5 separate regions of the Homo sapiens genome follow, and all the other regions are linked to region 1. Evidence: fine-mapped expression QTL. A gene starts in region 1. Each other region holds a variant in brackets. All regions are shown on one strand. Distances are from middle to middle.

Region 1 (5,130 bases):
AAAAATCCAGGGCAACACAATATTTAACAGAGGAAGACGGAATGTTTCCCTTCTAATAGCAGCAGCAAGACAAGGCTGTCCTTTCTCATCACTTCAATTCAAATTATACTTGAGTCTTTTGCCAGGACATTAATGTGAGAAAAGTAAATAAAAGACATTCAGATTGAAAAGAAGGAAGTAAAACTATCTCTATTCACAGACAACATGATTTTATACATAGAAAATCCTAATGAATCTACTAAAAAACTAGTAAACATAATAAATGAGTTCAGCAAGTTTGCAGGATATGAGATTCATATAAAAATATTATTGTAAGGCCGGACGTGGTGGCTCAGGCCAGTAATCCCAGCACTTTGGGAGGCCAAGGCGGGTGCATCACGAGGTCAGGAGATCGAGACCATCCTGGCTAACAAGGTGAAACCCCGTGTCTACCAAAAATACAAAAAAATTAGCCGGGCATGGTGGCGGGCGCCTGTAGTCTCAGCTACTCGGGAGGCTGAGGCAGGAGAATGCTATGAACCCGGGAGGCGGAGCTTGCAGTGAGCCGAGATCGCGCCACTGCACTCCAGCCTGGGCAACAGAGCAAGACTCCATCTCAAAAAAAAAAAAAAAATTATTGTATATATTAGCAGTAAATAAGCTGAAATGAAATTAAGAAAATTCAATATACAATAACATCAAAAAGCATAAAATACTTAGGAATAAATTTAACAAAAGCATAGGCTTTGTACATTGAAAAATATAAACCATTGCTGAAAGAAATCAAAGATCTACATAGGGCTGGGAGCAATGGCTCACGCCTGTAATCCCAGCACTTTGGGAGGCCAAGGCAGGTAGATAACCTGAGGTCAGGAGTTAGAGACCAGCCTGGCCAACATGGTGAAACCCCACCTCTACTAAAAATAGAAAAATTAGCTGGGTGTGGTGGCAGGCGCCTGTAGTCCCAGCTACTGAGGAGGCTGAGGCAGGAGAATCCTTTGAACCTGGGAGGCAGAGACTGCAGTGATCTGAGATGGCATCATTGCACTCCAGCCTGGGTGGCAAAGCGAGACTGTGTCTTTTTTTTTTTTTTTTTTTTTTGAGACAGAGTCTCACTCTGCTGCCAGGCTGGAGTGCAGTGGCACGATCTTGGCTCGCTGCAAGCTCCACCTCCTGGGTTCACGCCATTCTCCTGCCTCAGCCTCCCAAGTAGCTGGGACTACAGGCGCCCGCCACCACGCCCGGCTAATTTTTTGTATTTGTAGTAGAGATGGGGTTTCACTGTGTTAGCCAGCATGGTCTCGATCTCCTGACCTCATGATCTGCCCACCTCAGCCTCCCAAAGTGCTGGGATTACAGGCATGAGCCGCCGTGCCCGGCCAAGAGACTCTGTCTTAAAAAAATAATAAAAAATAAATAATATACATAAATTATTTTTATAATCACAACAAGCAGTTTTGTTCTTAAAGATGAAGAAGCAGTAACTGAAGGCCAGTGTAGACAGGCAGGCCCTCCAGATGAGACAGGACGTGGTGCCCTGGGGAACAAGCAGGCAACTTCAGCTGCTCCAAGTTGGCCAGCAGCACCAAGCCCCTACTGCGGGTGCAGCTGTGCTGAACCCTGTGGTCTCCTTAGGAGGAAGCAAGGTGAGCACAGTTCCCTTGATGTGAAACCTTCCAAAGGCTTCCTCTGTTTCTCCAATAAAATCCAAATTCCCTGCATGGCCAGCAGGACTCCCCATAGTCAGGCTCATGCCCATCTTCTGCTCAGTCTCCTTGCCCGCGTCCCAACGGGCTTTCTTTTTTTTTGAGACAGGGCCTCACTCTGTTGCCCAGGCTGGAGGGCCGTGATATGATCACAGTTCACTGTAGCCTCCACCTCCTGGGCTCAAGCGATCCTCCCACCTCAGCCTCACTCTGTCTCTCAGGCCTTGGAGGGCCATGATCACAGTTCACTGTAGCTTCCACCTCCTGGGCTCAAGCGATCCTCCCACCTCAGCCTCCTGAGTAGTTGGGACTACAGGCAGGCACCACCACAGCTCGGCTAATGTGATGGTTTTTTGTAGAGATGGGGTCTTGCGATGTTGCCCAGGCTGGTCTGGAACTCTTGGCCTCAAGCGATCCTCCCATCTCGGCTTCCCAGAGTGCAGGGACTACCGGGGGACTACCGGCCTGAGCCACGGCTCCCGGCCATATGGGCCTGTTTCATTTTCTGCACAGCACTTCTCACTTTCTGACACGATCTTAATTACCTGTTTATTACCTTGTCCCTCCGCCCCCCCCCCCCCCCCCACTGGAATGCAGCTTATTCCCGTGTCTCTAACACACAGTAGATATTTACCGGGCAAAGTAACTAACCTAAGGCTCATGCACCCTCGCCCTGGGGAGTACATCGGGCCCCACCCTCCTCCAGGAAGCCTCCTCTGACCAAGCTGGGTTCCCAGACCCTGGGGCTGCCTCCCTCCCACCCCGAAGGCTTGGGGCCACACGGGATCCGTGGATCCCGCCTTAGATCGGGGGTGCCCGGAGGCACTTACACCGTGAGCTCCGTCACCTGCGGGCCGCAGACTCGCAGGCGCCCAGAGGCGAGGGCGCGGCGTCCCGGAGAGCTTCCTGGAAGCGGCGGCCTCTGCGAAAGCGGGCGCGGGCGAGGCTGCAGGCGGCGCGGGGCCTGCAGCGCGCTCTTGTGCGGTAACAATAATGGCAGCTGTCACCCGGCCGTGCGCCCCGTCCTCACGCCCCGGGCCGGCCCCTGCGCGGGGCCCCGAGGCTGCGGGCGACGGAGACGAGCCGAGGCCTCGCGGACGCCCGCCCGGCGTCGCCCCCTCGCCCGTTCTTACCGTGTCCAAGGCCGGCTCCCCGGTGCCCAGGAACATGGTGGCGGCGCTGCCCGGCCGCCCCTCAGGGTTGCTGGCTCGGGCGTCCGGGTCTGGGAATCCGCGGGCAGCCCTGGCCGCCCGCAGCCTCGGGGCCTTCCCTGGCGCCGGCCCGCGACCCCGCTGCCATGGCAACCAGGCCGCCGACCTACCCAGCCGGGTAAGCGACCTGCGTTCCCCCTGGGGCGACCATGCGCGTGCGCAGAGTCCGCGGGCGCCGGCCGGCCGACCAGGAGCGCTCCCGGAGTTCCCGGGGCGGAGCGCGGGGGCTGAGAGGGGGAAAAAAACCGGCCCGGCGCAGTGGCTCGCGTCTGTAATCCCAACACTATGGGAGCCTAAGGCAGGAGATTCAATTGAGCCCAGGAGTTTGATACCAGCCTGGGCAATGTAGCGAGACCCCGTCTCTCGAAAAATAAAATAAAAATAAAAGCCAGGCATGCTGGTGCACGCCTATAGTCCCAGCTCCTCGGGAGGCTGAGGTGGGAGGATCGCTTGGAGCCCAGGAGGTCGAGGCTGCAGTGAGCTATGATTGCACCACTACAGTCCAGCCTGGGCGACAGAGCAAGACCCTGTCTCAATCAAACAAACACACATAATAAACTTTCGTTTGCTTTCAGGGTCTCACCCAGGGCGCTTTGCTCTACGTGCTCCCTGTGCATAAGTACCTCTTGCCACTCTCCCACCCTTGGGCTTCGCAAACTTTTTGCCCTTCTCTTATCTAATTATAGAGCCAGCGCCTATCTACGACCTTTTATCTGTGATTCTGAATTCCACAAACTTCCGAAAGCCCTTCACAACTCATTTGAAGGCCAGACCAGTCCTAACCTCAACTCTCCGGGAGGAAAACTCTGAGCTGAGGCTATTTATAGTGCTTATTTATCCCACGGGGTGTACATGAGTGAGTTTCACTGAATAACTTCTTTTTTTTTTTTTTTTGACGGAGTCTTGCTCTGTGGCCCAGGCTGGAGTGCAGTGGTGCGATCTCCGCTCACTGCAACCTTTGCCTCCTGGGTTCAAGCGATTCTCCTGCCTCAGCTACCCGAGTAGCTGGGACTACAGGTGCGTGCCACCACGCCCAGCTAATTTTTGTATTTTTAGTAGAGACGGGTTTCACCACCTTGACAAGGATGGTCTCGCTCTCTTGATCTCGTGATCCGCCCGCCTCCACCTCCCAAAGTGCTGGGATTACAGGCGTGAGCCACTGCACCCGGCCCTGAATAACTATTAATACGTTTAATTATGGGGTGTGTGTCACACTCTGCTGTAATCTCATATTTAATGTACATGTGCCATGTCACATTTCTAAAATCTGAACAGTTCTGAATTCTGAAAAAACATTTGTCCCCAAAAGTTTGAGATAAGAAATTGTGGACCTGGGCCAGGCACGATGGTGGCTCACGCCTGTAATCCCAGCACTTTGGGAGTCTAGGGTGGGTGGATCACTTGAGGTCAGGAGTTTGAGACCAGCCTGACCAATATGGTGAAACTCTGTCTCTACTAAAAATACAAAAATTAGCCAGGGGTCGTGGGTGCCTGTAGTCTCAGCTACTCAGGAGGCTGAGACAGGAGAATTGCTTGAACCTGGGAGGTGGAGGTTGCAGTGAGCTGAGATCACACCACTGCACTCCAGCCTGGACATCAGAGCGAGACTCCACCTCAAAAAAAAAAAAAATTGTGGACCTGTGCAATACAATATTCAAATCTGGAGCCAGACTGCTTGGGTTCAAATCCAAACTGTGCCAATCCAGTAGCTGTAAGGCCTTATGAGTTAGCCTCTCTGTGCCTCATTTTCCTCATCTGATGGGCTGGTAGTGGTACTCTCCTACCGTTGCTGTAGAATCATACAAGTTTACAGTAAGTGAAGCACTTAGCACAGTGCTGTTGTTGAGTTTTCTTTACTCCACAATTACCTAACTGGGTGAATGTTAGTATCTCATTTCACAATGAGGAACCAAATTTCAGGGAAGATAACTGTGCATTTCAAACTTTTTCACACATGTAGTTCTAAGGATGTACGTGTGTGTGTGTGTGCAGGGGGCATGCAAGCGTCAGGGAAGTTGCTTTTCCAAGGTTACCCAGCACGGCTGGGCGCGTTGGCTCACGCTGGTAGTCCCAGCACTTTGGGAGGCCTAGGTGGGCGGATCACCTAAAGTCAGGAGTTCGAGACCAGCCTGGCCAACATGGTGAAACCCCGTCTCTACTAAAAATACAAAATTAGCTGGGCGTGGTGGCCCGCACCTGTAATCCCAGCTACTCGGGAGGCTGAGGCAGGAGAA
Region 2 (5,130 bases), 50 kb before region 1:
AGGGCCAGAACCCCTGGCCCCCAGGCCCTGGGGCCGTGGGCAAGGAGGCCTCTCCGCTTGGTACTGTCTCCATGGAACAAAACCACACTGCAGCGTTCCAGGACCACAGAACAGCCAGGCAGGCTGTACCCAGCAAAGGGGACTGGTGACCAGCACTGGACACTGGGCATCAGCTGAAGACACTGGCTTGAGAATGCATTGCCATTTACCCAGCGAGCTTCAAGATGGATGCTGGCTTTTAAAAGAGCAGCCCAGCTGCACCAGAGGACATGGCGGTTTATGTATGGAACATTGGCCTCCAAGCCTGAGGCAGGAAAGCCCTCTCCATGCCTGTAACCCAAAGCTCTAGGCCACTGGTTCCCAAGAGTGAGCACGTCCCGCAGAAACAGCTTGGTTTAACAAGTGGGAGCAGCTGCCACAAGAGAACGGAGGGTCTCCCCCAGCGAATGTGCAGGTGTCTCACTTTCTCAGGGCTTTCGAGGTGGACTGGCTCCTAGGACCTGAAGCTTTGAGCTGGCAAGCAGGGATGGCTTGGGACAGCGCCCCAGGGAGTGGACCCGGGCGGGTGGGGTGAAGGCAGGGGTCTAAAGAGGGCCTGTGTCAGTTACACAGTCCATCAAGTTACCAGCCAGTTCAGTGGAAAAAAAAATGGACTTGGCAACCCACAGACCAAATAAGGAAAACACGTACACAAGCCAGGCCCCCCGCTGACTCGCTTCCACCCACTGCAGAAACAGAAGCTAAGTGGAGACAGGGGCCAGGCTTCGAACCGCAGGGTGGGGCGGGTCCTGCACTTTGGGTGGCCCCATCCCTGAGTGACTGGGAGAGAACAGGCTGGGCTGGGGACACCTGTGTCCTCCTCCCATAGAGCAGGTGGACATGCAGAGCCTCCTCTCTCCCTTTCACAAGCCACTGTGTTGGGGCCATCGGCCTTCTGACCGCCACAGAGAATGACCCAGGCTCAGCTTAGGTGACTCAGAAGGCCGCCATGCTGCAGAAAAGGCGCCCAGGGGTTAAGCCTGTCCCCGTGGACGGAAGCCTTGGGAGAAGCTGTCAGCTGTGTAAAAAGGGGCTTTCTAACCATTGGGTCTCTCCTGAGACAGCGGCCAGCCCCGGCAGGAGTCCCCACAGGGGTGCTGTGGAAATGCAGACACCAGGCCTGGGCTGTGCAGGGGTCTAGATGCCCCTGAAGGCCCGCCCAGGTCTAAGGCTCTTCCTCTTGACGCCCCAGCAAGGGCTAATCTCACACACAAGCAAGAGATGGGCACTGGACACTGTGCGCTTCCCCCAGGAACTCCCTCCTAGGCCTCTGCAGCTGCTGGCTCCACAGGCTCCGCACGCCCGGCCCAGCCCAGCCCAGCCCAGCCCAGCCCAGCCATGGAGCTTGGGAGTGCAGAGGCCGCACACATGGGGTGACGGGGACTGTCCCAGACACCAGATGCAACACGCCCCACCACGAGCCTATGCTGTCCCTTGGAACGGCGAGCCTGCCTCCTCACCCTCCTCTCCTCCTCTTCCCCGGGTGGCCCCACACAGGCTAAGGCTCCCGCCACCAGCTTGGGAACAGACATCACCCTGCTGTTCTCAGAAGCAAGTGTGATGCTGCTTTTGTAATTGGGAATTTTAAAAAATCTTGGTCTCCACAGTGACAGAATCCAACCAAATTCCTTCCTGGGAAGGGCAGCTCTGGAGGGCAGTGCTCCAGGGGATAGCAAGGGTGACGGGAAAGGACGGTGTGAGCGGGTGGGGCATGGAGTAAGATCATTTGGGGACCTGGGTGTCTTTAGCTCCTCACTGGCTTGGGACAGGCCGTGTTTTGCTGTGGGGATGGGGGAAGCCGGTCTCACACCTTCCTAAGGCACAGCGGGGTGTGTCTGCCTGGCCTGCTGGGCTGAGATCGAGCAAATCCTGGTTGTTGAGGGTGTCACCAGGAAGAGGGGGCATGGTGTCGGCGCTGGTTGCGGATAGCAGCTCCTCACGGTCAAGGTCGTGGGCAGGCGGCAAGGTGCTGTCAGAGAACGTGTCACTACAGGGCTCCCTGGCAT[C/A]TGCGAGTTCACGGCAGATGTGTCTGTTGGCACTGAAAATCCACCATCCGAGCTGCAGCTGGAGATGAGGGGGATGCGAGCCGCTGGCCCTCCCCAGAGAATAAAGTAAAGGCATTTGGGTCTCCTTCCACAAACAAAAGCACAAAGAGACACGACGCAGATGCTGAGGTGTTAAGTAGGTATCATCGTTCTTCTCCTAACACGATAAATTATCTTTCCAGTCGTGGTTCCTATGTCCTCGGCAGCGCTGCCATCACGGCGTGGAGACAGTGACGGGGACCTAAACTGGAAAGTTCTTCGTGGGCAGAGACGGTGCAATGACAATATCGTCGGAATCATCGGAGTTGACGTCATCCCCAGGTAGAGGTGCCAAGGCCTGTGGCCCTGAGGGAGAGGGGTCTGCAGAAATGAACCACAGGGAGAGGGGTCAGCCACGCTGACCTCAGGGGCTGCCACCACGGACACCCTTACACTGTCTGCTCTTCCCCGGCAGGCAAGACGGCAGCCACCCCGAGAAGCAGTAAGCCATGGGGCACACAGGCCCTCAGGAGCAACTCACACACCTGCCAGAAAGCCTCACTCTCCGCCCTCAGGACCAACTCACACACCTGCCAGAAAGCCTCACTCTCCAGCCTCAGGACCAACTTACACACCTGCCAGAAAGCCTCACTCTCCAGCCTCAGGACCAACTTACACACCTGCCAGAAAGCCTCACTCTCCAGCCTCAGGACCAACTTACACACCTGCTAGAAAGCCTCACTCTCCAGCCTCAGGACCAACTTACACACCTGCCAGAAAGCCTCACTCTCCTCACCTTCAAACTCAGCTCTGAGTATTCTCACCATTTCCCCCAGTCAAAACACCTGCAAAAGCAGACATTTGCCAGCATGGAGGAACCTCGAGTCCACACTGGAGTCATTCCCTGAAAGCCATTCCCACAGCAGCAGTCCAGGAGTCTGGGGCCTGGGTGGGTGGCTACCCGTGTGTAGGAGCGTTTCTGCTGGGTGCAGTGGCTCATGCCTGTAACCCCAGGACTCTGGAGGCCGAGGTGGGAGGGTGGCTTGAACCCAGGAGTTCCAGACCAGCCTGGGCAACACAGCTAGACTGCACTTCAAAAAAAAAAAAAAAAAAGCCAACTTCCCTGTTAACTCGCTGGCCACTGGTATAGAGGGCAGGAGGGGGCAAGGCACGGATCGCTGTGAGCTTGCAAGCTGCTCGGCCATTCCCCCTTGGATGCTCCTTCCTAAGCATCTAGAGCGTTCCAAACTTTTAATCCATTCTAGAATGGGACGCCACCTACAGACGGGATGGAGGTGGGTACCAGAGCTGAAGAAGGGACGGGTCCTACCACAGCAGCAGCCCCAGAGCTCCTTGCCGGGGAGCCTGAGTGTCGCTGCCTTGAAAGACGAAAGTAAAAAAGTAATGAACTGCTCATGTGAGATTTTAAAAAGGGAAGGAAATGGCAATTCGGCCATGCCGCAGATACTGTAACTGTGTCAGCTTTTTTTTCCTGCAACTTTCAAGAAAATTCATATTAAAGGGGAACCTTATGAAATTAAAAACAGCTTTCATGGTTATCTTCAAAAACAACCAATCAGCTCAAACAAAAGCTTGATTTATACTTTTCACAGAGACATTTCCTTAGGTCAATAAAGCTGAATCCCTGGGTCACGGGGATGAACTTGCGTCTTTAAAATCACTTGCGTTGAGCAAGAGAAAAGGGCAGCATCAACGCACGCTTTAGCCCTGATCAAAGCCTCTAAAGGTCACCAAAGGCAGGGTCTGGCGAAGCCGGTAGAATCGGCTCCCGGAGAACAACTGAAAGCCTTTTGCAGAGCCCACGAGTCACAGGCCGGCCCGACCGCTTTGCGTGTCTGTACATTCTCCCCGAAACCCCAGGCTGCTCATCTTTGTGTTGAGCTTTACAAATGGAAGTTTTGGAGAGAATATCAAAGTTCAAAGTTTTCTAGCTCTGACGAAACTAGGTTAAAAAATGAAAATAAAATGTGATTTCATACGTGGTATTTCCAGGTCAAACGTGGTATACGGTTCTTAGCTCGTGCAGGAGACTCTCTAAAACACAGCCCCTAGCGGGACCCCCTGGGGAGGGAAGGCTCTCGGGCTCCAGGTCTGATGCGGGCCTCAAAACGGCCTCTTCCCAACTCCGTGACTCCGCGTCAGCACAGGAGGGATCTCCCAGGAAAGCGAGGCCTCCGCCCGCCACGGGCCCCCACACTTACTGGAGTGGTACTGGGGGGCTGCCGGCTCCCTGGGCCCGTCCTGAAGGGACATTCAAATTAAGGCATGTGGGTCCTGGGCAGGCCTCACCCTTCCTTCACCCCCTGGCCTTCCTCACCCTCACCCTTTGGGCTCAGAAGAGCCTCTTCCTTTGTGGTTTTCCTTGCTGTTCTCTCTCCTCCTTCCCTGACTCCACCCTGGAGACCTAAGGACTCAGCACAGCAAAGCCCTTCGCCTGACACTTCCCACGTGAAACAGCCCCGCACGCCACACTCCCCTCCTCAACAGGGTCTTAAGGCTGCCCTTCTCCATCTCCCGACAGTCCCGAGTCTCAACAGCGTGCCTCCGCACTCATCTTCCCTTTACAGGAGGTGTCAATGGGGGGTTTCTAATTGCAGGATAAGACACGGGATCTCAAGTCCACGCAGAGCAGCATAGATTTGGGGTGGAGAGTGGCTTTCCAGCTGTCTAGCCCGTTCTCTACTTTAAACATGAAGGGACTGACGGCCAGAGAAAGGCAGGGCCTGCTGGGGCATCCCCGTCAGCTCCGGGCAGAGCAGGGATGAGGCCTCACACCAGGGTGTGGCATCCTGCAGTGCCAGCGGCTTCTTCACTGACTGTTTTTGGACTTTAACAAAGTAGAAAAGGAAACAATAACACGGTTTTACTCAACAAACAAACAGGAGAAATGCTGGCCTGAAGGAGGAAGCCACCTCGGTCCTGTTGGAGCTGAGAGCAAAAAATAAAGACAGCAAGGACCTCGGCAATTCCAGGCACAAAGGACAAGCTGGGCCAAGGCGGGGCCCTGTTGTGGGCCTTCCTGGCATAAGGCGACGCTTAGTTCAGA
Region 3 (5,102 bases), 33 kb after region 1:
AAAGCACCGCAGAGCTGCTGTATTTAAAAAACAAGCGTCTGGATCTCTGCAGGGGCTGGGACCAGCTGCAGTGGGGGCTCCGGCACTGCTCCTGCTCTCCAGGACTCTTCCCACCACCCCTGAGCGGGGTCGGGGCCTGGGGCCACATCACAGGAGAGGGAGGTGCAGCATTACCAGCTGTGGGGCGGCCGGACCCACGGCCTGCCTGGCTTGGAGTCTGAGCGCCTCCCCAGCCCACCAGCATGGCTGCTGGACCTTGGGCATCAGCTGCTCCGTGCCTCAGTTTCCCCACCTGCAAAGTGAGGCGATGATGTGGACTCTGTGAGCTCGTGGCAGGAGTGAAGTTGGATAAGGAGGCCCCAGGCCCGGTCACAGGAGTCACTGTCCCTCCTGCAGGGGCTGGGCTCCCCAGTGGCCAGACCAGGCCAGAGCCTTGGGGTTGTGCTTTTGGCTGGGACCTAGAGCCCCCAGCATCCTAGACCTGTTCCTCCTGGAAGCACAGGGCTCACGCTCCAGCGACCACCCTGACCCTGGGTGGGCCGCACCTGTAGTCACCAGCAGGCAGCTATAGTGACGCCAGGTTTCGTTCCAAAATAGTTGTCTCTAAGCGTTTCCTATCTACCTGCTCCATGCGGTGCACCCAAGGCCAAGCCTCCCCTTCACCTGTGTGCCTCTCCTGACCCTGGCTGCCCTGGGGCTTAGGCCCCACCTCCAGCCAAGACCAGGACCCCCAGGATTGCTGCAAAGAGCACCTTTATTCACAGCAAAAGGACGTCACCATAGCAACAACACTTCAATTCCCTGAGAACTTTTCCCTTATCATTCGCTTTCCTAGCTATGTCTTTGCAAAGAGAAAAACAACAAGAAACACAGCCCACGGGACAGGTGAGCCATGCTGGGCCCAGCGGGGAGGTGGCAGCTACACAGGAGGAGGGCAGGGATGGGAGGTTCCAGATGCTGGAACGCATAAATACACAGAGTGCCAGACAGTCCCACTTCAGCTTTAAAAACAAAGATGACCCCGAGTTTGGCTTCTGTTTTTTCTGATCCACAGAAAAGATAAGATAAAATAAGACCCTCCCCCACCCCCACCCTCCCAAGCAAAAAACAAGAACACCCTACTTTTTACCCATCCCCTTTCAAAAAAAACAGCACAGTAAAAAAATACTGTCACAATATTTACAGACACGCCCACTGTGGGCGACTTGCTCTCTACTTTGGAGAGGAGATTAAATGCTGAGCTCTGACTCACCCTGTCCTGGGGAGGCAAAGGGAAGACCTCTGAGGAGGCCTGGAAGACTCCCCACTCAGAAGAGCTGGGAGGGGTGCCACTGTTTGCCCAGCTGGACAGCCAGCCACTGGGGGCTTCGTGGGGCCACTGGAACTGGGCGGTGGCTGCTGTTACTCTTAAGCCACAGCGTCCAGGCCAGGAGGAAGGGGATTGGGTCACGCACCCCCAGACCCAGCCTCCCCTGCAATGAGCATGGCTCAGTGAGTCGTACTTGGGGCTATGACACAGGGGCCAGGACTTCAGGGCACAGGTACCCCCAGCACAGAGCTTGTGGTCAGCAGGAAGAGAAAGGCACCTACGCATCGCATCCCTGCAAAGTAGCCCGGAGCCCCGTAGCTGTAGAAAGATCCAAAAATCCTAACAGAATTGCCCTCGGAGTGGCCTCCGACACACAAATCCTTCCTCCAAGCAGGCCCTGCAGCCCACTGGCCCTCGGAGCAGAGGCACATAAGTGGCGCTGGTGCCCGCCCCTCCACAGAGCAGAACTGCCCAGCAGCCTGCTACCCGGGTGGGCATGCAGTACACACACACACACACGCACACGCACACGCACAGGCACGGCCCTAGGGGAGCCTCGAATGCCGAGGCCAGGGCAGCGCAACAGGGTCCCTGGGCCCTTTGGATACCAGGGGCGCCCAGGGATTGGGTCTCAGCCATGGCCACTAGAAGATGGCAGTGCGGGGACACCAGGGTGTGTCCGGGTACAGGTGGCAGTGGATGGAGCGGAACCTGTGGGAACAGAGCAGGGGCTGGTCTGCGTGGGTGGCAGGCAGGTGCTGAGCTCCCATTTGCAGTCCCACAACACTGGCGGCCCCACCCCGAGCAAGCAGGACTCCGGGGGACACCTCTATGTAGAGTCATGCCGCTTAGAGAGACCCTGCTGCAGCTCCACGAGGCCCCCTGACGCCCCTAGGCCACCCTACGCAAGCCCATCTGGGCCGGGGTTTCCTTACCTGGATGGGTCGGCCTCCACCGAGAAGGGCCCCTTCACGTGGACGGCGTTCCGCTTGTTTTCAAACATACCGTAGCTCAGCGTCACCTGTGGGGAGCGGGCGGAGTGATGCCGGGAGGGGCCCGACATCCCTGGGCCCCGCCCCAGGCTGGCCACACAGCCCTGAGTGAGGCAACGGCCCTGCCCTGGCCTCCCTTGGACCTGGAAGGACACCTGCCCTGCACACCCCAGGAATAAGGTCCCAAACTGGGGACCAGCTGGGGCTGGCTGCATTGCCAGCGTGGACAAAATACGCACAGTAGGCGCATCACAGTGAAGAGAAGAGACGGCAGGAAAACAACCCGCCATAAACAGCTTTGAGCTCATGGCAGGAGTGACCCCCCCTGGCTGACAGTGGAGTGCTGCCTGGCCTCCCTGTTTAGAACAGTGCCCCACCCCACTGCGCCCCTCTCGGCAGCCACACGTCCCTTCCTGTGCTCTCGGAGTCCTGGCGGGGCCCGGAGGATGGTGCACCTGCTCGTGGAGCTCCGAGGTGGGCACCTGCTGCAGGTTCTCCAGGTGGGAGTGGAAGAGGCCGCTGCGGATGAGGGGCACACCCAGCAGGGCCTCCACGATGTAGCCGATGGTGCAGTCATCAGGCAGCCGGATCCGCTCAGCCGTATTCATGAAGTGACCCCCGCTGCGGGAGGGAAGGGCCCAGACCAGTGAGCAGAGGCGGGAGCCATCTGCTGGGAGCTGGGGAGGCCCCACCAGGCAAAGGCGCTGCACTCCTCAGGGAGAGGAGCCCTGAGGAGAGCTCTGGGCTGCAGCTCCCTCTGCCTCCCCTGGCCACAGCCAGGGCACACTCCCTGCACAGCTCCTGTGCTCCGTGGCTCTCTGTGGAGGGAATCTGGGTGCAGGGAAGAGTCCTGCCGGATGGTGCCTGGGGTGCTCATCGCCCCCCTGGCTGCTCTGAGCAGGTCAGGCTTGGGGGCAGC[C/T]GCCGTAAACACAGCTGCCCTCTGAAACCCAGAGGGAAGTGGAATATAGGAAGTAAGTGGGCAGTGCCACACAGGAGGCTGGGGACACCCCATGGCTGGGAAGATGAACTAAGCCAGGCCCCACAGTGGCGAGGAGCCTGGGACCGGGCTGGCCTAACCTGTGCAGGGCACTCACCTGGCCCACGGGCTCATCTTCAGAGCCAGCCCACGGCTGATGCAGAAGCCAGCGCCGCCCGTGGCAAACCAGAAGTGGACAGGACGCTGGGAGAAGGGAGAAGGTGTCCTGAGACCCAGGCGCTGCTGCCCCTCACGGTCCCACCCCCACTCCGGGTGTGCGCTCCGCGTGGGCGTGGGGGACTGGGAGGGGCAGGCACTCACCACCTTGTTCTCGCTGACCCGCTCCATGGCCTGGATGGGCCTGTCCAGGCTGGGCTTGCCGACGTAGACGTCCCGCGTGTGCGGGTAGCTGGCCAGCAGCCGCAGCAGGGCCCGCAGGTTGACGTAGTTGTCATCGTCCACGTGGCAGAACCACCTGAGGACAAGGCAGGGCCATCGGGGGAGGGCATGCCGGGGCGGGCGCTGCCAGGCTCGGGCAGGGAGATGGGGGTCCCCCGGGGCCACACTCACTTCCTGCCGGACTCGATGAAGCGGTCATACTCCACGGCCATCTTGCAGGACAGCGCCTGGCGGCTGTGGGCGGCCGAGCAGTTTGTGATGACCACGTTGCCTGTGGACAGGGGAGCGGCTGTGAGTAGGTCTGAGCCGGCTCCCAGAGAGGGGCCTGGCCTGGGGGACGCCACAGGGCCCAGGGGCTCGAGAAAAGCCCCCTAGTTCAAGCTGGGCCCGGCGGCCGTAGCCTCCCCCACCCTAGCTCGGGGCTTGGGCCTGTGGACCCTCCCGCAGCCCAGCCCCTTCCAGGGCGGCCCCGCCCCCGCCCATTCAGGCAGCTTTTTCCCAGCACCCGCCACCTGTTGCCGCTGCCTGGGCTCAAAGGGACCCGGGGGGCTGAATGGGCTTCATTTGCATGAGAATTGGGGGGCCCGAGTGGTGGGGCGGGGCATGGAGCAAACCCCATGAGTAAACTGCCCTCCCTGTCCTGCCCTTGGTGACCTCTCGGCCCAGAGGGGCAGGGAGACTGGAGGGGGAGCGTTCGGCTCTGGATGGAGGCCTGGGCCCCCTCCCGCCCCAAGTCCAGGGCTCACCCGTGTGCCTGGCCAGGGCCTCATCTTCCCCGTCAGTGAAGATGAACGTCTGGAAGGAGAAAATCGGCCTTCAGCAGGCAGCCCTTCATCCCCACCCCAGGGCCATCTGTGGGGGCCGGACGGGGCGCCCTGGAGTTGCTGCAGCTGCAGCTGCGTCACACTGACACCCACCCTTCTCCGGGCCTTGGTTTCCCCACTCGTGCTGAGAAGGGCTCAAGTGCCCCATCTCAGTGCCATCTGGGCCAGAGCTCACGCATTCACTCGCCCTGGGGGTGGGGGATGGGGGCCTCACTCCCCAACCTCGACAGCTGCACCCAAGGTCGTCCAGGCGCGGTGAGGCACGAGCCAGGTGGTGCGCCTCGCCCGCCCGCCAGGTAACCGGTTCCCGACCCGCCCCGTGCACCTGGCAGGGCACACACCCTTATTGACACAGCACCCAGCCTGCCACTTGGAGGCTGCTGGAAAGGCGGGGGACAGGCGGGGTGGCGGGAGGGACAGGCGGAGGAGGTCGGCTGTGGGAAGCCAAGTCTCAATCACTCGGGGTTGGGGACAAAGGCCTTCGCTGGGCGGCTGCCAAGCCCTGGCGGACAAAGGGCCTGGAGGGAGGATGAATCACCAGGCATTGTCCGCCAGCTTTGTCCTGGGCTGGCGGGAGAGGGGCGCCGGGCCGGCCTTAACTC
Region 4 (5,000 bases), 27 kb before region 1:
TCCCAGCACTTCAGGAGGCCAAGGTGGGTGGATCACGAGGTCAGGAGATCGAGACCATCCTGGCTAACATGGTGAAACCCCGTCTCTACTAAAAATACAAAAAATTACCCGGGTGTGGTGGTGGGCACCTGTAGTCCCAGCTACTGGGGAGGTTGAGGGAGGAGAATCACTTGAACTCGGGAGGCGGAGGTTGCCGTGACCTGAGATCGCGCCACTGCACTCCAGCCTGGGGACAGAGTGAGACTCCATCTCAAAAAAAAAGAAAAAAAAAACAAAAACAAAAACAAAACAAAGGTCCAATTCCAATAGAATCAGCCTAATTCCTACTTTGCAGTCGCATAGGGGATGTGGGGAAATGTTCATTTCCCGACATTTCTGCCTGGCCAGGAGTTGGGTCAACAATTTCCTGTGGATTCCAACACGACTTGAGTGGTGGGAAGCAGTGCCTGGTCATCAGCGGGCAGTGCACAGCCCACAGCCTGCACAGGCGGGCTGGACTGTGAGGGGCTCCAGTGCGAAGCGCGTCTGCCTGCGGCCACGCACAGAAGCTCACAGCCCAGCGAGGGGCATGAGAGCTGCCTTCAGCGTTGTCTAGACCTGGAAGAAGTCTCCTTGCGGTCTGTGTGTGGCGCTGCCTGGCAGACAGCCAGTGCCATGCTCAGCGCCACCTTCCGCACCCTGTGAGCCCGTCCCCACAGCATGAGGCCCCTGGTCCCCAACGACAGTGGCACTGAGACGCCCGCTCACCTTCTCCAGCTCCACAATGCGCCTCAGCAGCCGGGGCTTGCTCCACTCCACATAACCTGATGGAAGCAATGCGGTTTCAAAACGGCATCCTGGTGGGCACTGCCAGCAGGGCCACCCTTCTCAGGTATGGCCTGAGGCTCCTCTTCCGCAGCCGGAGCAGCCTGCGGGGCTGCAGAGCCACACCGACAGGTCCTGGCTACCAGAGAATTTTGCCAGCGCTGGCCCAGTCTCTGCCCCCTTGGATCGTGAAGAGATAGATGTCTGTATTAACAGCCTCCAAGCATCTCGGGGTGACATCCTTTCCCGATTCCACCTGGCCAGGCCATTAAGACAGTTCTCATCAAGATCTCCGATGACTGTCAGTCTGCCAAATCCAACAATCGGTTCTCAGCCTGTCCCCTTCCTGGCATGCACAGCCCCTCGCTAGCCACTCCTCCCCTCTGCCTCGCTGGCTGCCCCTCGCCTCCCCCATATACCGCCAAGTTCAGGGCCTGACCCCCTGCTCCTCTCACTCCAGGTGACCTCACTCGATCCACCTAAGTGCTGGTGACCCACATGCTCAGTTCTCCAGCCCAGGCCTCTGCCTCGCACCCCCACACAGCCACTGCCTGGCCCCCACTCCCACACACTCAGACCTCCCGTGGCCTTTCCCCAAACCTGCCCCTCTGCCTCCCCCATCTCAGGAAATAGCAACTCTGTCTTTTTCAGCTGCTGGGACAAAAAGCCTTGGAGCCTGGCTGCTCCCTCTCAGAGCCTACACCCTCTCTGCAGTTTCCCTAAGCTCCAGCTACAAGATGCAACCAGACCCTGAACACCTTTCACCACACCCACTGCTGCCCCCATCCAGGCCACCAGCAGCCCGACTAGACAAGCGCAGAAGCCTCTGTCTGCCACCATCCCCATCTCTGCACAGAAGCCAGGGGGCCTCGGGAAGCAGCACGGCCCCCCTCCACCCTCTGCCTAACACTCCCACAGCACCCCTAAGGCTCCCATGGCACCCTGCCTCGCCCCGCTGGGCCTCAGGGGCCACACTCCACGTGTCTCCCAGGCACTCAGCTCTGCCCCGCCTGTCCCACGCCTGCTGCCGTCTTCATGGCTATCTCGCCCCTTCCAGGTCCCGCTCAGCTGTCACCGTCTTGGGGGTGCCTTCCTGTCAACCCTGCTTGCAGCTGCACACACCACCTGCCTCACCCCAAAATGTGTCCTCCTCCCCTCCTCCATGGCACTTACAGCCATCTGACACATGTCACGCATCTGACCCAGCTCCTCTCTCCCTCCCACAGCATTGTCTCCTCCAGGGATGTCTGTGAGCTTCTGTTTGCGGCTCCATCCCCGGGGCATCGCGTGGCCCGCGGCAGGTGCTGGCACATGTGGGAACTGGCGTTGCCCAAGGGTTCACATCTGCCCTCGTGGTGCCTGTCCTCAGTTGGGCCTACCCAGTGGCCATGCCCTGCCATTCCCTGCCATTCCCTGGCCTCCCTCCTGGAGTGGCTTTCAGGAAGGTACCCTGTGTCTTGGAGATGGTTGGGGAGGTGCTCAGCACGCGGTCCAGGTCCTCCTTCAGGCTCTGGTTCTCTTCCGTGAGCTCCTGGACA[CTCCGGGACAA/A]GCTCAGGAGGGCACTGCCCATCTTCTTCTGCCTTTTGGCGCCCGTCTTCTTCTCCCCCAGGGGCCTGGAACAACCAAATCGTGGACTGAGGTTTGCATTGCTAAGCTGGTTTCACACATGCTTGAAACGAGGGACAGGTGAATCACAGCTTGCTCTGTTGGTTGTGAGCTCAGAGTGGTTTTTGCAGGTGAGTATTTGAAATCGAATAGGCAGTAATAACTTTGAACTCTAAATAAGCAAAATGTTAGCACCCAAAATGGAACCCCATCCTTATGCAAGGTAAACCTGTGTAACAAAATACCGTGTTCAACCATCAGTATTATACTTTCCATGCCATCACTAGAAGGGCTGTGGAAAGGCATCTTGTTACGCCAGGTGCTTGCAGGATAGCTCGGGTTTCGCCTCTTAGCCCAGGAGGTGTAAAGTACAGTCGATCCTCATTATCTGCAGGTCCCGTAATTGCAAATGTGCTTGCTGCTAAAATGGATCCATCAGCCGAAAATCAATACTCATGCAGGTTTTGTGGGGATTCTTGCACGTGCACAGGTGATGAAAAATGCCAGTCGCTGGCGCGCACGTTCCCAGCTGGGGCTGACCCAGGTGGTGCTCAGCTCCTCACCTCAGCTCAGGTAAAAACAAGTGTGCTTTCTGTGGCCTGCCTGGCGCTGTGGCTCTCACGTTTCTGTGCTGTTTGCTCGTGACGCTGCCTTGCGTGGGCTGGACTGCAGTGCTGAGTGCCGTCCAGTGCCTCTAAGCTCAGGAAGGCTGTGTGGGCCCCCGTGGAGACGCTTATGCGCGTGCAAGAAGCCTCGTTCAGGCCAGCCATGAGTTTGATGAAAATTAATCCACAATCACTATTAAACAGGGTGTCTTTAAACAGAGACACATGTTAGCCAGGTTATACATTGACTAGCTGATGAAAATGCTGTGACCAGGCTGGGCATGGTGGCTCATGCCTGTAATCCTAGAACTTTGGGAGGCTGAGGCAGGCGGATCACCTGAGGTCAGGAGTTCGAGAACAGCCTTGCCAACATAGTAAAACCCCATCTCTACTAAAAATACAAAAATTATCTGGGTGTGGTGGCATGTGCCTGTACAGTCCCAGATACTTGGGAGGCAGAGGCAAGATAATCACTTGAACCCAGGAGGCAGAGGTTGCAGTGAGCTGAGATCACACCACCGCACTCCAGCCTGGGCAACATTTGCCAAAAAAAAAAAAAAAATGTTATGAGCAGAAGCTCGCAGGAGCCCTGTACCTCCCATTGGAGCAGTGGTTTAGTATTCGCTCGTTCTATGTTCATGGAGACTTTATAACTCTGTAAGGCGGACGTGATTACCACTACACTACAGAAACCTGCAGACATTTTATAACTGAATAATGAGAATCGACTGTAGTTAGCATCTGGTCCTTTACAGAAAAAGTTTTCCAACCAGTTTTAAGGATTAGGGGTAAAGAAAAAGGAAAGCAGTCCACGACGTCAGCAAACTGCTGCAGAGGCCAGTGACGTGGCCAAAGCCATGATCAGAGATCAGCCACCCAGAAGCAGATGGAAGCTTTGGGAAAGGGATGTGGGAGATCTACCAGACAAGGAGAACCTCGGTGTTTCTCCTGATAAACTTATTTAGGAAAACATTAGGTGGCAAAGTAAACTTGTCCTTGTGTGCAATGTCTTCCTAAAAAGGTGGCTCTGCTTTGAAACAGCACTTTCTAGCTCTAAGCTGGAAGGCAGGATGTAGAATCTATAACGAACACGGGCGGCATTGAACACGCGTTGGCCATCAACACGTGGTCACTATGAGGAGTCTGTGAACACTGCAAATGGAAACGTGTCAACTCTAACCCTGAACAGAACAGGTGCAGTGTTGGCAGCACTGCCAAGCTAAGGGCAGTATATGCCGCACCCACGTGACAGCCACACATTCTCAGAGGAGCTTCCACAACGTGAAGGCAACACACAAAACACAGCTTGCAAGCGGCCATCATACTTCTTTCCGGTGGTTTCAGAACTTGCCAAGAGGGTCTGGAGACGATGCACCTGTAAATACCAAATTGAAATGCATGAAAACACAAGGCTAGCATGGAGAAGACCTTATCTGAAAAGACCAACATCACAGTCCTGACCGCTGCCTACGGCCAGAAGCGGGAACTAAGTGGCCGCACTTCATCTTTCCGTTGGGCTGAAGCAGGAGCAGGCTCCAGGAGCACAGCTCTGGGCCACCTGGGCTCGGCCCACCACCCGGGGCCAGCGCCGGTCCCCTCCCACTCGGTGCCCGCCCTCCGCCCCGCCACCCAGCACGGTGCCCGCCCTCCGCCCCGCCGCCCAGCTCGGTGCCCGCCCCGCCGCCCAGCTCGGTGCCCGCCCCGCCGCCCAGCACGGTGCCCGCCCTCCGCCCCGCCACCCAGCACGGTGCCCGCCCTCCGCCCCGCCGCCCAGCTCGGTGCCCGCCCCGCCGCCCAGCACGGTGCCCGCCCTCCGCCCCGCCGCCCAGCTCGGTGCCCGCCCTCCGCCCCGCCGCCCAGCTCGGTGCCCGCCCTCCGCTCCGCCGCCCAGCACGGCGCACCTCCTCGTAGTATGTCTCCATGGCGATCCGCATCTCTTCCAGGTTGGTAGTCTTCATATCGGTCTGGAGTTTGCTGAAAACCCAA
Region 5 (5,130 bases), 41 kb after region 1:
CGCTGGGAATCCTAACGGCCCGGCCGCCAAACAAAACCCACGGCCCCCGCCGCCCCCTCCCGCCAGCCCGCTGAGCCCCTGGGAATGGGACGCTGTGTTCCCAGGAGGCTGCCATGGGGTTCCCAGGGCCCCTTCCCCACGCCAGGACCAGGGAGGACCCTGCCCCTCCCCGTCGCCCTCATGACCTCACCAAGCCCTGCTCCCACCCACCCACAGTGCCCCAAAACAGGACAGCGCCAGGTCAGAAGGCCCTGGGTCTCCGGGGTTTGAGCAGGGAGGAAGGCGTGCAGGGTCTTCCCTGAGCCCCCACCCTCACAGCAAATGCCTCTGCATCTCCCAGCCCAGAGACACCCCCCCAGTCCCCGACTGCAAGCCCCACACACTGTCCCCATCCCGCCCCAGCCCAACCGTCCTGCTGTGGCCTCGAGGGAAATGTTCAAAGTGGGGTGTGTCTTAATTATGTGTGTGTAAGAAGCTGATGCCCAACTGAAGTGGGCTGTGCCCAAGGTTGCAGGCCTCAGAGACTACTGCACTGTGCGGGGAGGGTCCCCACACAGACCCCAAAACCTGGAGTTCTTTGAGATGTACTCCCCAGGACCCACCAACCAGCAATGACTTCCCTCCCTCCCCGTACCTTAACACTGTGATGAGGAAAGGGCCCAGAGGTCAGAACCCCTCACTTCTCTAAAGGAAGAGCCTTTCTCCCCAGGAAGGGGTCTGAGCTGAGGGTGGGTCCGAACAGAATTTGCTTGTGGAAGTTTGAGGACATAATGCCCTATGAATGCGCTCCAATGTTTACGGGGTGAGAAGTATCACAGGGCACCAACCCCAAGCACTGGAGACTGGTGTAGGGTCCTGCAGCCATCCAGGACTCTGGAGCTGGACAGGAGGCGGGGCCCCGGGGACAGTAACACAACTGTAACGGGAGAGTGGCCCCAGCAGGCAAACTGGGTGCACCGGGGTGCACTGGCGTCGCCCACAGATGGCCCTAGTGGCTGGATGGGGATGCAGCCTGACTCCCATGGGACACTGCCACCAGCTGGACCAGATGGTGGGTCCCCGCCCCGCTCGCCCGCCAGTCCAGGCCGCGGGGGGCTCACCATCTCCTTGTGGCGCGAGATCCAGGTCTCCAGCAGCAGGTCGAGGCGCGCGCGGTGGAACTTTTTGGTGGTCTTGACAGCGATGAAGACGTCTCGGGGCGCGAGCGGCTCGGCCAGGGGGCGCGGGTGGCCGTCGGCGGGGCGGGGGGCAGCCCCGGGCGGCGGGCCCGCATCTCTGCGCGCGCGGGTGAGCAGGCTGAAGTACTCGGACAGACTGTGCACGTCGCGGACCAGCGCCCCGGGCGCCGCCGCCGCCGCCCCCAGCCCGGGCGCCGGGGCAGCCCCCGCGGGGCCCGCCAGGCTGCGCAGCGCGCGCCGGCCGCGCTCGGCGGGCAGTGGAGGCGGCGGCGGGTCGGCGGTGAGCACCAGCAGGCAGGCGAGCAGCGCGCCCGCCAGCGCCAGCAGCAGGCGCCGGCCGCAGCGCTTGAGCATGGTGGGGTGGCGGCCGCGCGGCGCGCCCTTCCCCGTGCGCCTGCCTTGCACCGACCCGAAGCCCGTCGCTCCGGCGGCGCAGTCCAGCAGCGCAGCACCAGTGTCCCGCGCTCTTAAACCTCCCCGCCCCGGTCCCGCCCCCGTGCGCTCATTGGCTCCCGGGCTCGGGGGCGGGGCCTCGCGCCGGTCGCCGCTCCACGCCCGCAGACCCACGTGGGGCCGCGGCTGGGGGCTGGGAACTGCCCAGAGGGCGCAGCGGCCCCGCCCCCGGCGCGCACGTGCACGCCCCGCACCCCCCCCGCCCCGGGTAGCCCCTGCGGGCCGCCGAGGGGCTTGGGGACGGGCCCGGCCCGCGCCGGTGTCCCTGAAGAGGAAACCCAGCCTGGCCAGCGCCGTCCGGGGATGCACCGGGCGTCCCGGCACGGGAGGGGCGCGCCCTCGGCGCAGCGGGCAGGGTGCTGAGACCCGGGCTCTGGGCTCCGACGCACCGCGGGGGACATCCTACTTCCTCGCTGTGCGCTTCCCCTCCTGAGCACGGCTTCCTCCCCTTGGGACGCGGCAGGCCTTGCAAACTGGGGTGGCGCCTGGGTCTTC[C/T]CGAGCGCTCGGTTCAGGGGAGCCGTTATTTGTACAGAGCAAGAGCTTGGCCACCTGTGCCGCAGGTGGGGACACGAGGTTCTAACGAGAAAGCACCAGAACCAAATTCCACTCCTTCCTCCCTGGCTGATTTCCTCGATCCTGGCCCTCCGTCGGGAGGGTTGGCTCCCCGAAATCCTCAGGCGCCCCATGGCGAGGAGAAACGAAGGCCGCCACTTCCCTCGCCGGATGAAAGGCCGCCTTCTGTCCCATTTGGTCTCCTTGCGCTCGGGCCAGATGCGGCCCAGCTGTGCGCCCTCCCCACCCCGCCTCCCCGGCACACGGCCCCCATCCCCGGCCCTTCCCACGGGCCCGGGCCCGCCCCTCGCACGAGCGGGGGCGGCAGGAATGCGCGCCGGCAGCCGAGGGTGAGGGGCGAGGGGCCCGGAAGTGGCCAAGGGTCGCCTGAGCAGGGTGTGAGCCCCCTGCCCGCCACGTCCTCCGGAAGCGTGGACGGAGGCGGCTCTGCCCGTGGCTGCGCTGTCTTCCCGTGCCCTCCTAAGCAGGGTCTCTGCGACCACCACGACCACCACCGCCACCACCGTGGCTAAACTGCCCCCCTCGGAGTTATGTTCACGCCTGAGATGGCATTTTAAATTCTTTAAGTGCCCTTGGAGCCCCTCTCCTTACCTCTACCTGAATGTCAGCCGCAAGACAGCAGCGACCTGGTGTCATTCAGACCTGGAACAGGTTTTGGGACATAGTAGGTGCTCTGAAAAAATTCACTGGATAAATGTCTGGCCCCACTGTCAGACCCTCTCCCCCCGCTAAGGACGCTGTAGCCCATTTGCTCTTAGGGCCCCAGGGGCCCCACCCCTAGCCCCTGTACCCGCTGGGTGGTGTGGGGGATGGGGGTTCCCAGGCCTCTTCCTGGCCCCAGGTAATTAGCAGTCACCACCTCCGAAAGCAGATGCCCCAGCAGATGGTGCTGGCTGTGCCCAAGTGACAAGTCTCCCATGGCGTCACCTCCTGCCATAAACCCCTTCCGATCAGCCAGAGCCTAGCCCTGGAGCCTCCATGCAGCTGGAGAGGCTTGAGGGTGAGCCGGGGAGAAAAGGACCCAGTGACTGGGTTGGCTGCCCCCACAAAGTCAGCTGAGTCCCAGCCCAGCCCCAGCCTCCGGACTGAGGGGTGTCCATGACCCCACGTGCTTCAGTCACACCGCTGACTTCAGGCTCTCCCATATCTGAATTGTTTCAGAGACGGAGCCTCATCCATCCCCATCATCTCTTCCCTGAATCACTTGGGCAGCCTCCACCCCCATCCCACCCACTCCTATCCTACCTGCTTTACTTATTCTCCACGCAGCAGCTGGACAACTAGGATCATAGCCACTCACACACCCACACAAAGAGCAAAACCCTCCATAGCTCTCCACTGGCTGAGTTAAAGTCCCGCCTGATATTCACGCACCTCGTGACTTAGTCCCAGCCCCGTTTCTTGAGGCCCAATCCCTCCTCAATCCCCTGCAGCCAAGCATGGCCAAGCCCCCAAATATGTGCACGGGTTGTGCTCTGTACCTGGACTTTACATCAGTGGCACCGATGGTGGGTGCCATGCCACCCTGCACCCCACCTGACAAGATGCTGTGAGTCCATCTCCCCACAGTTCCCAGGCCAGGGGATGGGGCTTCCTGCCCTGAGCCGCCCCACCCCCGCAACTCCTGCTCCCCAGCTACCCCTGACTGCGGTGCCTTTGACCCAGCAGGTCGTGGGAGCAATGTGCCCATTGTAGAGAAAGCAAGGGGGATATTGTACCAAGGGAGTGACCATACAGAGGTGGATGGCCCAGCCTGGCAGGGGCACATGCATAGAACTGGGTAGGGGGGGTTCCCGCGTCTCTCTGTAGCCAGGAATGGGAGGAGTGGGGGACCTGATGCTGCTGCCTGTCTGGAAGCAGCGGGAGGAAGCTTTACAGCATTCTTGTGGGGGCCGCAGGCTTTGGCAAGAGTGAATCAATTTCTTTGCTGTCAGGAGAATGGAATTTCGTGGTGACTTCTTGAGGTCTGAAAACTGTTGAGGGGGTGGCCCGCCTAGCCACCCCCGCCCGCTTCCCCAGGCTCAGCTTCAGCCTGAAACACTTCCCTCCCCATCCAGACCCCAGGTCTCCCTCTAGGGGCCCACTGGGCCACACAGCCCTGGTAGGGAAGTGGGCTGTGGGATGGTGCTCAGCCCTGGACAGGACAAAGGGGAGCTGGGGAGGGGGCTAGAGAGGGCTGACCGAGTTGCCAGTGAAGCCTCTTGGGGCCGTAGGGTCCTGGGGAAGAGGGGCTGGGGATAGAGGCTGCCCCAGGGCCCAGCCTGCCTTCCGAACCCAGAGGGGCCACTTCTCGGCTTTAAGACCTTGAACCGGTGGTGTTACTCCCTGAGCCTCAGTTTCCTCACTTGTAACACAAGGATGACATACCATCCAGACCAGGCAGGCCAGCTCTGGCCCTGGCGCATGGCTTCATGGGCTTCTTGGACCCTAGTCTTCCCCTCTGCAGGGCCCCTCCACCAGTCCCAGTTTGGGGCTCCCAGGCAGCTGGGTGTGCGAATGGCCCGAGAGACCTGCCTGCTGAGGTCAGGTGGAAAGCAGGCCCACGGAGCCAGGACCCACATGACCAGGGGCCCTACCCTCCTCCTCTAGCCGCCATCAGGCTGAGACAGTGTTCTGTCCCCATCTGAGTCCAGGCCTCCTCTAACTGCCAGGGCTCAGCCCGGGGGTTCTCCTGCTGGAGTCAGTGCCACCAGGTCCCCAAAGCCATGGGCTGGGTCTGCCCTTGACACTCAGGCCTAGAGGGGAAGGGCTCGGGGCTGGCTTTGAGGTGGCCATCTGCCTTCCCTCCCCCGGGCTGTTCCTTGGGGCTGCTCTGGCCTGCCTTCCTGCAGGGTCCTGGGAAGATCTGTGGAGACATAATGGGTGACCCATTAACTCGGCAGGAAGCCATCCGAGGCGCCTGTCCACTCATCGGCTGATGGAGAGC

Which allele goes with the higher level. Alleles are on the strand shown, and positions count from the first base shown. SD is a standard deviation of normalised expression in the study named. Not every link is listed here.
With allele C in place of A in region 2, the expression in esophagus muscle of the gene that starts at base 3,057 in region 1 is lower (moderate effect, 0.44 SD a copy in GTEx).

What was found. PIP is the estimated chance that this variant, and not a neighbour inherited with it, causes the effect.
Region 2: its variant is fine-mapped to the expression of IQCE in esophagus muscle (GTEx, PIP 0.99).
Region 3: its variant is fine-mapped to the expression of IQCE in tibial artery (GTEx, PIP 0.95).
Region 4: its variant is fine-mapped to the expression of IQCE in whole blood (TOPMed, PIP above 0.99).
Region 5: its variant is fine-mapped to the expression of IQCE in whole blood (INTERVAL, PIP above 0.99).

The regions. Positions count from the first base shown.
Region 1 is chr7:2,556,906-2,562,035 of GRCh38, reverse strand. IQCE (IQ motif containing E) reads right to left here and starts at 3,057. Exons shown (of 22, transcript NM_152558.5): 1 at 2,819-3,057. The coding sequence starts at 2,854. RefSeq lists silencers at 2,376-2,445, 2,666-3,175.
Region 2 is chr7:2,607,358-2,612,487 of GRCh38, reverse strand. It overlaps IQCE (IQ motif containing E), which reads right to left. Exons shown (of 22, transcript NM_152558.5): 22 at 1-2,444. The coding sequence ends at 2,326. Among named protein-coding and RNA genes, the nearest start is that of TTYH3, 22 kb to the left of the region's middle. RefSeq lists enhancers at 1,268-1,841, 1,842-2,415. The variant C/A (reference allele first, on the strand shown) is at 2,046.
Region 3 is chr7:2,524,064-2,529,165 of GRCh38, reverse strand. It overlaps LFNG (LFNG O-fucosylpeptide 3-beta-N-acetylglucosaminyltransferase), which reads right to left. Exons shown (of 8, transcript NM_001040167.2): 2 at 4,423-4,471; 3 at 3,848-3,947; 4 at 3,599-3,752; 5 at 3,396-3,481; 6 at 2,757-2,922; 7 at 2,245-2,330; 8 at 737-2,020. The coding sequence ends at 1,954. MIR4648 (microRNA 4648) reads right to left here and starts at 2,092; the gene lies at 2,021-2,092. RefSeq lists an enhancer at 1-797. The variant C/T (reference allele first, on the strand shown) is at 3,221.
Region 4 is chr7:2,583,625-2,588,624 of GRCh38, reverse strand. IQCE (IQ motif containing E) reads right to left here. Exons shown (of 22, transcript NM_152558.5): 10 at 4,916-4,988; 11 at 4,340-4,389; 12 at 2,254-2,417; 13 at 748-803. Among named protein-coding and RNA genes, the nearest start is that of IQCE, 27 kb to the right of the region's middle. RefSeq lists an enhancer at 3,096-3,667. The variant CTCCGGGACAA/A (reference allele first, on the strand shown) is at 2,343.
Region 5 is chr7:2,516,264-2,521,393 of GRCh38, reverse strand. It overlaps LFNG (LFNG O-fucosylpeptide 3-beta-N-acetylglucosaminyltransferase), which reads right to left and starts at 1,620. Exons shown (of 8, transcript NM_001040167.2): 1 at 1,101-1,620. The coding sequence starts at 1,532. RefSeq lists silencers at 1,445-1,554, 1,565-2,094. The variant C/T (reference allele first, on the strand shown) is at 2,127.